3 linked regions of the Homo sapiens genome follow. The protein of the gene in region 2 purifies or fractionates together with the protein of the main gene of each other region. This does not show direct contact. Each region holds a gene or a part of one and is shown on either strand. Other genes may lie near its edges.

Region 1 (3,748 bases), on a different chromosome or scaffold from region 2:
GACCAGCCTGGTCAACATGGCGAAACCCTGTCTCTACAACAAATACAAAAATTAGCTCGCGTGGTGGCGGGTGCCTGTAATCCCAGCTACTCGGGAGGCTGAGGTTCGAGAATCGCTTAAACCCAGGAGGCAGAGATTGTAGTGAGCTGAGATTGTGCCACTGCACTCCAGCCTGGGCGATTGAGTGAAACTGTGTCCCCCTGCAAAAAAAAAAAAAAAAAAAAAAAAAAAAAAAAAAAAAAAAAGGAGGGAGGTGGGGGAGAAGGTGCTTAGGAGCCTGTTTTCCTGGGCCTCTGAGAAGTCCAAATATCCCAAGTGTGTTAAGATTATATAAAATCCTATACAACCAAAGGTCCCATAGGGTAGTGCTCTCCGCCATACAGGATGGGCTTTTCTGGCCCTGCTTAACAATCTGCTAGTTGGTTCTTTCTCTCACCACTCTTGTTAGTAGTCAGATCTTCGAGGCTTCTCATATGACTCCTGCTTGTGAATCTCAACATCATGATCACTTTCCCTTCTTTGTCTCCCTCTGGGGGACCAAGCTTTGCCAATAGCTTGGGTTCCACTGGGCCAACCAGCTCCTCCTCTCCCTCCCATTAGTGGACAAGCCCACTACCTCGGGGACTGGTGACAGTGCCCCAGCCTGAGACGGTGCACTTCTGGCCAGGCTGGGTGCAATGATCTGCCAGGCTGATGGGCTTCACTTTGGACCCCAGGGATGCCTGGTCACGCAGTTGAAGAAGCATCAGATCATGGTTGTGGTCCTCCACATCGCTGCTGTTGTAGCAGGGGTGTGGGATGGACTGAACCACAGGTATTTCTTGCTCTGGGCCATCTTTATTCTGTAGGCTGTGGTCTCCCAGGCGTACTGTGTATTTCCTGTAATGGTGGGGATAGTTTGGGACCCAGGCAGGGGTATTGCCCCCAGCCCCCTCCTCCTTCAGACCCAGGAGTCCAGTCCTCAGCTCTCTCCTTCCTGAGTCGAAACCCCAGCCCCCTCTTTCCTTAAGCCCCAGCTGACCTCTGCCCCCATCATCCACTCACGGTTTTTTACAGTGGGCAGCTGTAAGGACCCAGTTGCCACCTACAAGGACACCGCCACAGAGTAGTTGCTGGCCCTGGAACAAGGCCGCCTGCCAAGGCTGCGAATGGGGTTGGCACTCATGACCCCCCAGCACCTTGTCCTCCTGTGCCCTGGAGTGTCCTGCAGCAGGAGGGAGAGGGTTGGATCGCCACCCTCTGGGGCAGTGCGAGGGCTGGGAAGGCCACTGTGGGTTCAAATGGACACACGGCAAGTTCTCCGCATACAACTTAGTGAGGAGGTCCAGGCTTCCACACGCTGCCACACGGGGACACTCATTTCAGTCCATGTGTCATCATACAAGAGTCACACACCCAAGAATGCCCCCACATGCTTCCACATGAGTCTACAGGCCCCGAGTACTCCCAGGTGAATCTATGCCCCCAAGCAAGCAGCCCCCAAAGGCTGTAGCTATTCAGACAATTTACAGCATCACGGAACCTACTCCTACCTGCTGCTACCTGTTTCTTGCCTCTGTCCACCCTGAGGAAAGCCCACAGAGGCTCCTGCACCGTATCGCACTCTTCACATCCGTGCACACGCACCCACATAACCCCCGCGGCATTCCCACAGACTCCCCAGCGCCACTGCTGCCTTCAGATCCCTCCCCTCCGGAGGCCTCCGCAACCCTCCTCACCTGCCCAGGCTCCCCCCAGCAAGAGCAGGAACATCCACGTCTTGGCCGCACGAGGTCGGGGGCGTCCCATGGTGAGGTCTGGGAAATGGAGAGGGCGGGGCCGGTAAACAGGAAGGAGGAGCCTGAGCTCCCAGTTCTGGATTTGGGCACTGGGGAGGCAGCCGAGAGTATCTGGGGCTGTTCTGGGCTTCTCTGGAGGAAGGAGGAGGCTGGGGGACTGGATTCCTACATTCCAAGGGAGGGGGGAGTCCTCGATGTCTGGGTCTGAGGGGACAGGGAGCTGGGAGCTGGGACTCCTAAATTAGGGAGAGGAGGAAGCCGGGGTCCAGACTGCTGGATCTCGACAGAGAAGGGCATCTGAGGCTGGGGTCCTGGAATCTGGAGAAGGAGGGTCCGGGGCCTGATGTCTGTATCTGAGTACCTCTGCACCTCACCTTCCAGAATCCAGGGGCGGGGTCACCTACTGATTCGGACCCAGTGGAGGAGGCCCCAGTACTTCAGTTCTCTGCCTGGTACACGATTCTGGAGCCTTTTAACTGGGAATCTCCACCTCCTGCTCCTCCTCCTTCTCCTCCTGCACTAGAGCCTGGGGAGCTTCTGGGAACTGGAACACTGGGTGTGAGTGAGAAGGGGCGGAGGGGATTGAACGTGAAATCTTGAGGGAGGAGGGGCTGGAATCTCAGACTCCTGAGGCTAGGGAGAGGAGGGACTCGGTGCTGAGACTCTACGATCTGAAACATAAAGGGCTGGGGGCCAAGATTTTAGTTCTGAGAGGGGAGGAGGCTGGGGGCCTGGATTCCTGGGTCTGAGGGAGGAGAGGCTGGGGGCCTGGACTCCTAAATCTAAGGGAGGAGGGACTGGGACCTGGGATTTAGGTCTGACCGAGGAGGGGCTGGGGGCCCAGACTCCTGGGTCTGAGGGAGGAGGGGGCTGCTAGGGGCCAGGACTCCTGGGTCTGAGGGAGGAGGGGCTAGGGGCCTGGATTCCTGGGTGTGAGGGAGGAGAGAGCTGGGGGCTGAATTCTAAGTACTTTTAAAAGGAGAAGCTTGGAACCTGATCTTTTGTGGGAGGAGGGGGCTGCTGCCAGTAACCGGGAACCGAAGAAAGGCAGGTCTTCTAGGGTCAGAAACCAGAGGGTGGATCAGGCCCCGCCCGCTGTCCCCTGAGAGGTCCGGGATCTGGGAGGGCAGGTTTGGGAGGCACTGTGACCTGGTTTCCCCTTCCCCTGGAGGCGGCAAGACCAACCCAAGCAGAACCCAGGAGTCTTGCTGCAATAGGGCTGATGGACAGAGACTTTAGGCAAAACTTACTAGGGGTTTAAGGGGGAGTTGCAAGGCGGTACCGGTTCCCTCATCTGCCCTTCACCGCCCACCCGTTTGCTCTCCACTCATCTCACAGCTCAGGCAGAAAGAAGGTGAGGTTTCCCGCGTTTACTGAAAAATCATCCGTTGCATTGGCTCTAAAGGTATCCAGACCCTCCCTCAATTTCCCCCCAGGTCTCCGCCAGGATTCAAACCCAGCACACGCCCAGGACGGGGCCACAAGGGGCTGAGCTCTACACCGCCCGAGCTCCACGTGGGCGGAGCTACTGCGCCCCTGACATCACGAGGGGCGAGATCTCTGGTGAAGGAGGCGGGGCCACAAGGGGTGGAGTCCCGAGGGGAAGTCCCACTGGGCAAAGTTCCGAGGGGCGGAGCTATTTTGTGTAAGTGGTTCCTTGGGGCGGAGCCACAGGCTGTGCTGTTCCAAGAAGGAGGTGATGGCTGTCGGTGACGTCATAGAGACGGGCTCTGAAGGGCGTGTCCCTGCTCCGTTCCGAGGGGGCGCGACTGTGTCTTGCTTGACCTCGTGAGGGGGCGGAGCCTCAGGGGCGGAGTCTTAGTGTCCAGAGGGGAGTCAGGGCAGCTGGAGGTCCAGGGCGGGAACCATTGAGGCTGGGACCCTACGAGAACCCCCTACCCCGTGCCCTTCGGCCTCTCTTGGTCTTCCAAGGTGCCCCCGTGGCGCGCGGGCTCAGTTCTCCATGATTT
Region 2 (3,648 bases):
CACCTCGGAGAAACCACGATGGGCATACTCAGCCTGGAGAGGAGGGTACAGACATGGAAGGTCAGAGTAACTGGAAGGAAAGCAGGTAGGGTGTCAGCTGTGTGATCTTCCTGGGCCCTCAGGCCATGCTGATTGCAACCACAACCTATTAAATACCAGGTCCCATCTCTATGCTCCCCGACTGCAGACCACACAATTGTAGTATTAAAGGTCACCAGCACTTTCAATATTTATGTTTATGATTCCAAACCAGCCCCCCCACCTTTTTTTTTCTCTTCAAGACGGAGTCTCACTGTATCACACAGGCTGGAGTGCAGTGGCTCAATCTCAGTTCACTGCAACCTCCCCTTCCTGGGTTCAAGGGATTCTCCTGCCTCAGCCTCCCCAGTAGCTGGGACTACAGGCGCTGCCACCACACTGGCTAATTTTTTGTATTTATTTTAGTAGAGACAGGGTTTTGCCATGTTGGCCAGGCTGGTCTCGAACTCCTGACCTCAGGTGATCTGCACGGCTCAGCCTCCGAAAGTGCTAGGATTATAGATGTGAGCCACTGTGCCCGGCCCCAACCCCCATCTTTTAACACAAACACCTTAGCTTCTTCTAGTCCCTCAGCCCCTCCCTGGTCTTCTTTCCTCTAGACCTGGGTCCCCTTACCCTGATAAACGCCACTAGTGCATTATACACCCTTGTCCCTCGTGGCAGGAAGAAGCAGCTCCCAGGGCTCAGTTCATGGAAGAAGAAGAGCTCCTGTTCCTGGGGTCAGGAATAGCAATATTGGGTCACCTCAAGGGCAAGGAGGTGGCTTTGGAACTCAGAACAACTGACGGAGCTGCTCAGTCTGTGTGACTGAATCTGCTCCCAATTTCATAATCAGGTTCTGTCATCTCTCTCCAACCCTTATCACCATCCCTCCCTATCTTCCCAATTCCTGTACCTTCCCAATGCGCCGGTGGTCCCGCAATTCTGCTTCCTCCCTCCATGCTTCCCAGACCCTCAGCAATTCTGTTGTGGGGAAGGAAATCCCTGACACTCTCTGCAGTGTCTCTGGGGCCCCTGAAGACCTCCATAAGGATGATGAGTTCTGTGTGAGGACATAGGGGATCAAAGGAAAGATGAGGACTGAAGGCCCCCACCTTTTTCAAGACTCAAATGATACTCTCAGTGTTAAGTGTCACAGGTATGCCTCTTGACAACAATCCCACCAGTAGGATGAACACCTCCATCCTCTAGACACCATTCTTCTAGATTAAAGTGTTGAAATTGCCTGACTCTTAATTCCTACATACAACCTGGTCAGGCCTAACCTTACCTTGCCATCTCTTTTTCTCCCCATTCTCATTACCCCTTTACTTAGTTCCTTCCCATTCTAATCAATGACTGCTTAGAGGAATAACCATAAGCTCTGGTCAAATGTCAGTCTATTCCTCCATTTATCAATATCCTATACAGCTGCTAGAAAAGTCAGTCTTCTATACCATATCCCATTCCTGGCCACATGAAATCCAAAAGCCTCTGCCTGCTCTCTCCTTTAACAGTACTAATGAGCCGGGCGCGGTGGCTCACGCCTGTAATCCCAGCACTTTGGGAGGCCGAGGCGGGCGGATCACGAGGTCAGGAGATCGAGACCATCCTGGCTAACATGGTGAAACCCCGTCTCTACTAAAAATACAAAAAAATTAACTGGGTGTGGTGGTGGGTGCCTGTAGTCGCAGCTACTCGGGAGGCTGAGGCAGGACAATGGCATGAACCCGGAAGGTGGAGCTAGCAGTGAGTCGCGATCGCACCACTGCACTCCAGCCTGGGCGACAGAGCAAGACTCCATCTCAAAAAATAACAAACAAACAAACAAACAAAAAAGTACTAATGAGAGGCCGGGCGCAGTGGCTCACACCTGTAATCCCAGCACTTTGGGGGGCTGAGGTGGGTGGATCACAAGGTCAAGAGTTCAAGACCAGCCTGACCAACATGGTGAAACCTTGTCTGTACTAAAAATACAAAAATTAGCCAGGTGTGGTGGCACGTGCCTGTAACCCAGCTACTCAGGAGGCTGAGGCAGGAGAATTGCTTGAACCTGGCAGGCAGAGGTTGCAGTGAGCCGAGATCAGGCCACTGCACTCCAGCCTGGGCAACAGAGCAAGACTCTGTCTCAAAAAAATAAAAATGAAATAAAATAAAACTGTTAAACAGTACTAATGAGAAACAGTCTATACGTGTGTGTGTGTGTGTATATACATCTGTCACCCAGGCTGGAGTGCAGTGGCGCGATCTCGGCTCACTGCAAGCTCCGCCTCCCAGGTTCACGCCATTCTCCTGCCTCAGCCTCCCAAGTAGCTGGGACTACAGGCCACCACCACCACACTCGACTAATTTTTTTTTTCTTTTTTTGAGACGGAGTCTCGCTGTCGCCCAGGCTGGAGTGCAGTGGCGTGATCTTGGCTCACTGCAGGCTCCACCCCCCAGGGTTCACGCCATTCTCCTGCCTCAGCCTCCCAAGTAGCTGGGACTACAGGCGCCCGCCACCTCGCCCAGCTAATTTTTTGTATTTTTAGTAGACAGGGTTTCACCGTGTTAGCCAGGATGGTCTCGATCTCCTGACCTCATGATCCGCCTGCCTCAGCCTCCCAAAGTGATGGGATTACAGGCGTGAGCCACTGCGCCCGGCCACACCTGGCTAATTTTTTGTATTTTTAGTAGAGACGGGGTTTCACGGTGTTAGCCAGGATGGTCTCGATCTCTGGACCTCGTGATTCACTCGCCTCAGCCTCCCAAAGTGTTAGGATTACAGGCGTGAGCCACCACGCCCAGCCCCTATATGTATATTTTTTGAAACAGAGTCTCACTCTGTTGCCCAGGCTGGAGTGCAGTGGTGCAATCTTGGCTCACTGCAACCTCTGCCTCCCAGTTCAAGCAATTCTCCTGCCTCAGCCTCCCGAGTAGCTGGGACTACAGGTGCATGCCACCACGCCCAGCTAATTTTTTATTTTTAGTAGTGACGAGGTTTCACCATGTTGGCCAGGCTGGTCTTGAACTCCTGAGCTCAAGTGATCCGCCCAACTTGGCCTCCCAAAGTGTTGGGATTACACGTGTGAACCACCGCACCTGGCCGACAGTCTGTATTTTACAGCACTTTTTAACTTTTCCTTTTTCCTGAATTAGTTGGTTTTCATTATCTTTTTTTTTTTTTTTTTTTTTGAGATGTTGTCTCGCTCCGTGGCCCAGGCTGGAATGCAGTGGCACAATCTCAGCTCACTGCAACCTCTGCCTCCTGGCAGAGTTCAAGTGACTCTCCTGCCTCAGCCTTTTTTGTAGCTGGGATTACAGGCGTAGGCCAGCACACCCAGCTAATTTGTGTATTTTTAGTAGAGACAGGGTTTCACCATGTTGGCCAGGCTGGTCTCGAACTCCTGACCTCAAGTGATCCGCCTGCCTCACCCTCCCCAAAGTGCTGGGATTACAGGTGTGAGCCACCATGCCTGGCCTGGTTTTCATTATCTTTATGAGGTGAATTTACTGGTAGGACAAAAAGGAATTAATAGCCTCATTTTATAGATGGGGAAAATAAGTAAGATTTACCCAAGGCCACCGCGCCATGGGGTTTTGCCATGTTGGCCAGGCTGATCTCAAGTGATCCACCCACCTTGGCCTCCC
Region 3 (3,748 bases), on a different chromosome or scaffold from region 2:
GACTCTGGTCAACAGGATACCAGGAACTCTTGCTTCCCAGAATGCCCCCTCCTTCCCCTGCCCTCAGATCAGGCCCTTCATACTGATGTTGGCCCAAGTTGCACCTGTTCCCATCCTGACTGCACCTTAGTCCACACTAAGACCTTGAACCTGAACTGTTAGCATCTTGCAGCCTGGGTGAGTTCCCCTACCCTGTGCCAGGCACCTCAGCAAAATCCTCACAGTGAATGCTTCCATACCCATCACTTCAGCTAGTACTGCCGCTTTGACAAATTAGTCCCTGTTAATGAGAATTAAGCCCAGGGTAGTTTGTTCCCCTGATTAGATCCACACCCTCTGAAGGGTAAAATTGCTGGCAAAGCAAGTGAAATGTTCCCAGAATTTGAGCATTTATCTTAATGGGGCTTTGTATGAGGATTTAATTTAGGTTTAGTTGTGACCAAAATATCCTGCCTCTTTGTTTTGTTGCCTGTTATTAAAACATTAGTCAAAGCCTCCATCTCAGCAGATCTATTTGTTATTTTCCCACAATTACATTTTTAAAATTTTCTTTAACTTCAGATTTGTAGCTATGCAAAATGATGATATCTTACTCCAAAGCAAAAAATAATTTATAACAGAAAACAAGCAGTATTAACACATAAACAAGCCACAGTGGAGCAGTTTACTGGGATTTGTAAAATAGAGCACTACTGAAATGCCAGACACTCTGACATCAACTATATGTCAGAGGGGCTAAAAGTCAAGTACCAAGAACCAAGATGTTCTAAGGATTAGCAGGGAGAGTGTCTCATAATCAAGCAGTAATAAGATGACTAAGGTTATAATAGTCCAATAACTAAGATATTTGTTGCTATTTCCAAGGACTATAAGTAGCTTAAAATGTTATATTAAGGTATTTGTTATAATTTCCTAAACTAAGATCCTACATTTGTAAATATTTACTCAAAATCGTTTGTTAGCGTAACCTCTTAAGCAAATTATACTTTGCTTGGGCCAGTATTAGATTTTATTTTTATTCTGTAGCCCAGGTATACATACTAGCCCTAGATAAACCCATGGTGGACAATTTACACATGAACGAAGAATCATTTGCAGGTATAAAGCCAGTGAATAGTCAAAATTGCACAACGTACTACCACCCAAGCAAGTCTATTCTTTATAAGATTATCTGTCCTGAGCTCCGTAAGTTTGTAAGTGGCCACCCTGTTTTCCTTCAAACTGGTATTCAGCTAAGTGGACAGGCTAGGCAAATCTACTGGCAGATTCCATCTCATTATGCTGGAACAATGACTGGAATTTAAGGAATGATATATGAAGCAAGATAATTTAAGACCACCAAAGAAGTGACAAAGGGAACCACATTTTTGTGTGTCCCAGAAGCTGTCCTGCCTCCAGATCAACAGATGAACAGCAAGTTCAGCACAGGGCAAATGGAGGGCGCACTCAAACTTCAGGGCCCTTTGTTTAACCTCATGTGCTCCAGGTTGACTCTTGAGAATTAAAACCCAAAACTCACATTACAAGCATCTTTCAAATTCTATTATTGAACTAGAGATATGGAAATAGATCTAGACAAATTATGGGGGTGAGGGGGTGAAGAAGGGACAGGCAGCCGCTGTCCTCTAAGGTTTCACAAAATGGAAGCAGGCAACCCAGAGAGTCACTTTAGCTTCTGAACCGACTTCAGTAAAGGCTGGTCTTCTTCATGATCCGAAGGAACTCCTCCTCGTTCACTTCGCCGTCCCCATCCCGATCAGCTTCGTCGATCATCTCCTGCAGCTCCTCATCCGTGAGGTTCTCCCCCAGCTCGTTGGCCACACGCTTCAGGTTTTTGAACGAGATCTTCCCGGTCTCATCGTCATCAAAGAGCCTGAAGGCCTTCAGGATTTCTTCTTTGGTGTCCTTCTCGGACATCTTCTGCGTCATCACGGCCAGGAAGTCATTGAAGCTGATCTTCCCCGTGCCTTCCCTGTCCACCTCGGAGATCATTTTCTTCATCTCTTCCTTCCTGGGTTCGAAGCCCAGCGCTCTCATGGCCACCTTCAGCTCCTTCGCGTCGATGGTCCCACTTCCGTCCACGTCGAAGAGGTCAAATGCTTCCCGAACTTCTTGCTTCTGATCCTCAGTGAGCTCGGGCTTAGGTGCCACCTTTCTCTTTTGGCCGGTGGAGGCAGCGCTGGGCTTCTTGAAGCCGGAAGCCATCCTGCCGCTCTGGCCGCCGTGGTCCCAACGGCACCGCCCCGCGCTCTCATTCGGGCGCCCCCCGCCGGCGCGGCGCGGGACCACCCCTCGCTCACTGCCAACGCCCACGCCCGCTGGGGCCTGGAGCCGGCCCGGGGAACCTCTTCCTACGCCCTCCCATCTGCGGGATCTTGCTTAGGCGAGAATCCGCTGTCCCCTCGGGTCATTAACCGGTTTCCACGAGTTGACGCCTGAGCTGGCAAGAACAGCCTGTAGCCACAGTTGTCTTCTGTAATCCACTGGCGCTGGCAGTTCTTTCCAAGATATGTGCTAGCATCCATAAGACCCCAGTTTTATAGGTTTCTTTAGGGACTCTTCCTCTCTCTCTCTCTCTCTCTCCTCTCTCTCTTTTGACAGGAGTGCACTGGTGCCACTCAGCTTACTGCAGCCTCCACCTTCCAGGATCAAGTGATCCTCCCACCTCAGCCTCCATAGTAGCTGAGACTACAGGGCATGCCACCACACCCAGCTAAATTAAAAAAAAAAATTTTTTTTTTTATAGAGACAGAGTCTCACCATGTTGCCCAGGCTGGTCTGAAACTCCTGGGATCAAGGGATTTCCCGCCCCAGCCTCCCAAAGTGCTAGAATTACAGGCATGAGCTACCAAGCCGGGCCTCTCCTTTTTATACCATTTAAAAAACCCTCTTGTTCTAGCGGCAACACCCAATGAGGTGACAGGTCCTAAGGGTAAATTTAGGATAATCAAGATTGAGTGTGATCACTTGACATTCAATGTGGGGAAGGAGAAGGAAGAGAGAATATTAAAAGTCATACCATGTGTTCAACTTGACATAAATGGGAAACAGAGAAAATGGAAAAATTTATGTATAAAATGCGTAGAAGTTTGTCTCCTGACATTACACTCAACAATAATACAATGTTTCTGGCATGTTCTCAAATATGAAATGTAATATCCAAATGTATGATTTACTTTCAGTGTTTCCATTTTACATACTCAGTATAATTGCACTTGAATAATGGTCATAATTTCATTCATGAGGCTTTTGATTTGGAGGGAGGGAAGTGGAAATACTACATTCTGGTATATTCTAGTATTTTCTTTTCTCTAACCTCCTAGCAGCACATTACTCTCCTTGCTTATCATCCAATCAGAGCTGTGCTGAAACCCACGCTCTGGTCGCCTTCCTTTGGCAATGGGCACAGGAGATGATGCAGGACATGTTGGGACTCAAAATTGCCTCCTGGGAATAAAGCGGTTCTCCTACAAACCAAAGAGCAAGAGGAAAATGGAAAAGAAAAAAAAAATTACCAAATAAGCCCACCAAGGAATTGCCTGTAGAATTACTTTGCATTCTTTTAAATAGTTACAGAAAAGAAAGCTGACTTATTTTTTTAGCATTCTCCCCCTGCCCCGCCCCCCCGCAATCAAATCTCAATCTATTAATATATCAATACCTTTTGTAACCTATGAAGGTTACAAAAGATGTCACTTTGAAGAGTTTGTGTTAAAGAGTTTTATGGCTGGGTGCAGTGGGTCACACC

The links.
Region 1: the proteins of TARS2 (region 2) and KLK8 purify together in Homo sapiens (co-immunoprecipitation; one large-scale study listed by IntAct). This does not show direct contact.
Region 3: the proteins of TARS2 (region 2) and CETN1 purify together in Homo sapiens (co-immunoprecipitation; one large-scale study listed by IntAct). This does not show direct contact.

What each region holds. Positions count from the first base shown.
Region 1 is NC_000019.10:50,999,380-51,003,127, forward strand, and holds the start of KLK8 (kallikrein-8 isoform 1 preproprotein), read right to left. Parts: upstream 2,226-3,748; 5' UTR 2,153-2,225; intron 1,797-2,152; 5' UTR 1,789-1,796; coding exon 1,719-1,788; intron 1,340-1,718; coding exon of another isoform or gene 1,205-1,339; coding exon 1,045-1,204; intron 880-1,044; coding exon 617-879; intron 1-616. Other genes in the region: KLK9 (kallikrein-9 precursor), read right to left, coding at 3,732-3,748. UniProt on the Homo sapiens protein: Serine protease which is capable of degrading a number of proteins such as casein, fibrinogen, kininogen, fibronectin and collagen type IV. Also cleaves L1CAM in response to increased neural activity.
Region 2 is NC_000001.11:150,493,915-150,497,562, reverse strand, and holds part of TARS2 (threonine--tRNA ligase, mitochondrial), read right to left. Parts: intron 1,082-3,648; coding exon 935-1,081; intron 754-934; coding exon 655-753; intron 34-654; coding exon 1-33. UniProt on the Homo sapiens protein: Catalyzes the attachment of threonine to tRNA(Thr) in a two-step reaction: threonine is first activated by ATP to form Thr-AMP and then transferred to the acceptor end of tRNA(Thr). Also edits incorrectly charged tRNA(Thr) via its editing domain.
Region 3 is NC_000018.10:578,866-582,613, reverse strand, and holds CETN1 (centrin-1), read right to left. Parts: upstream 2,235-3,748; 5' UTR 2,206-2,234; coding exon 1,687-2,205; 3' UTR 500-1,686; downstream 1-499. UniProt on the Homo sapiens protein: Plays a fundamental role in microtubule-organizing center structure and function. Plays a role in sperm cilia formation.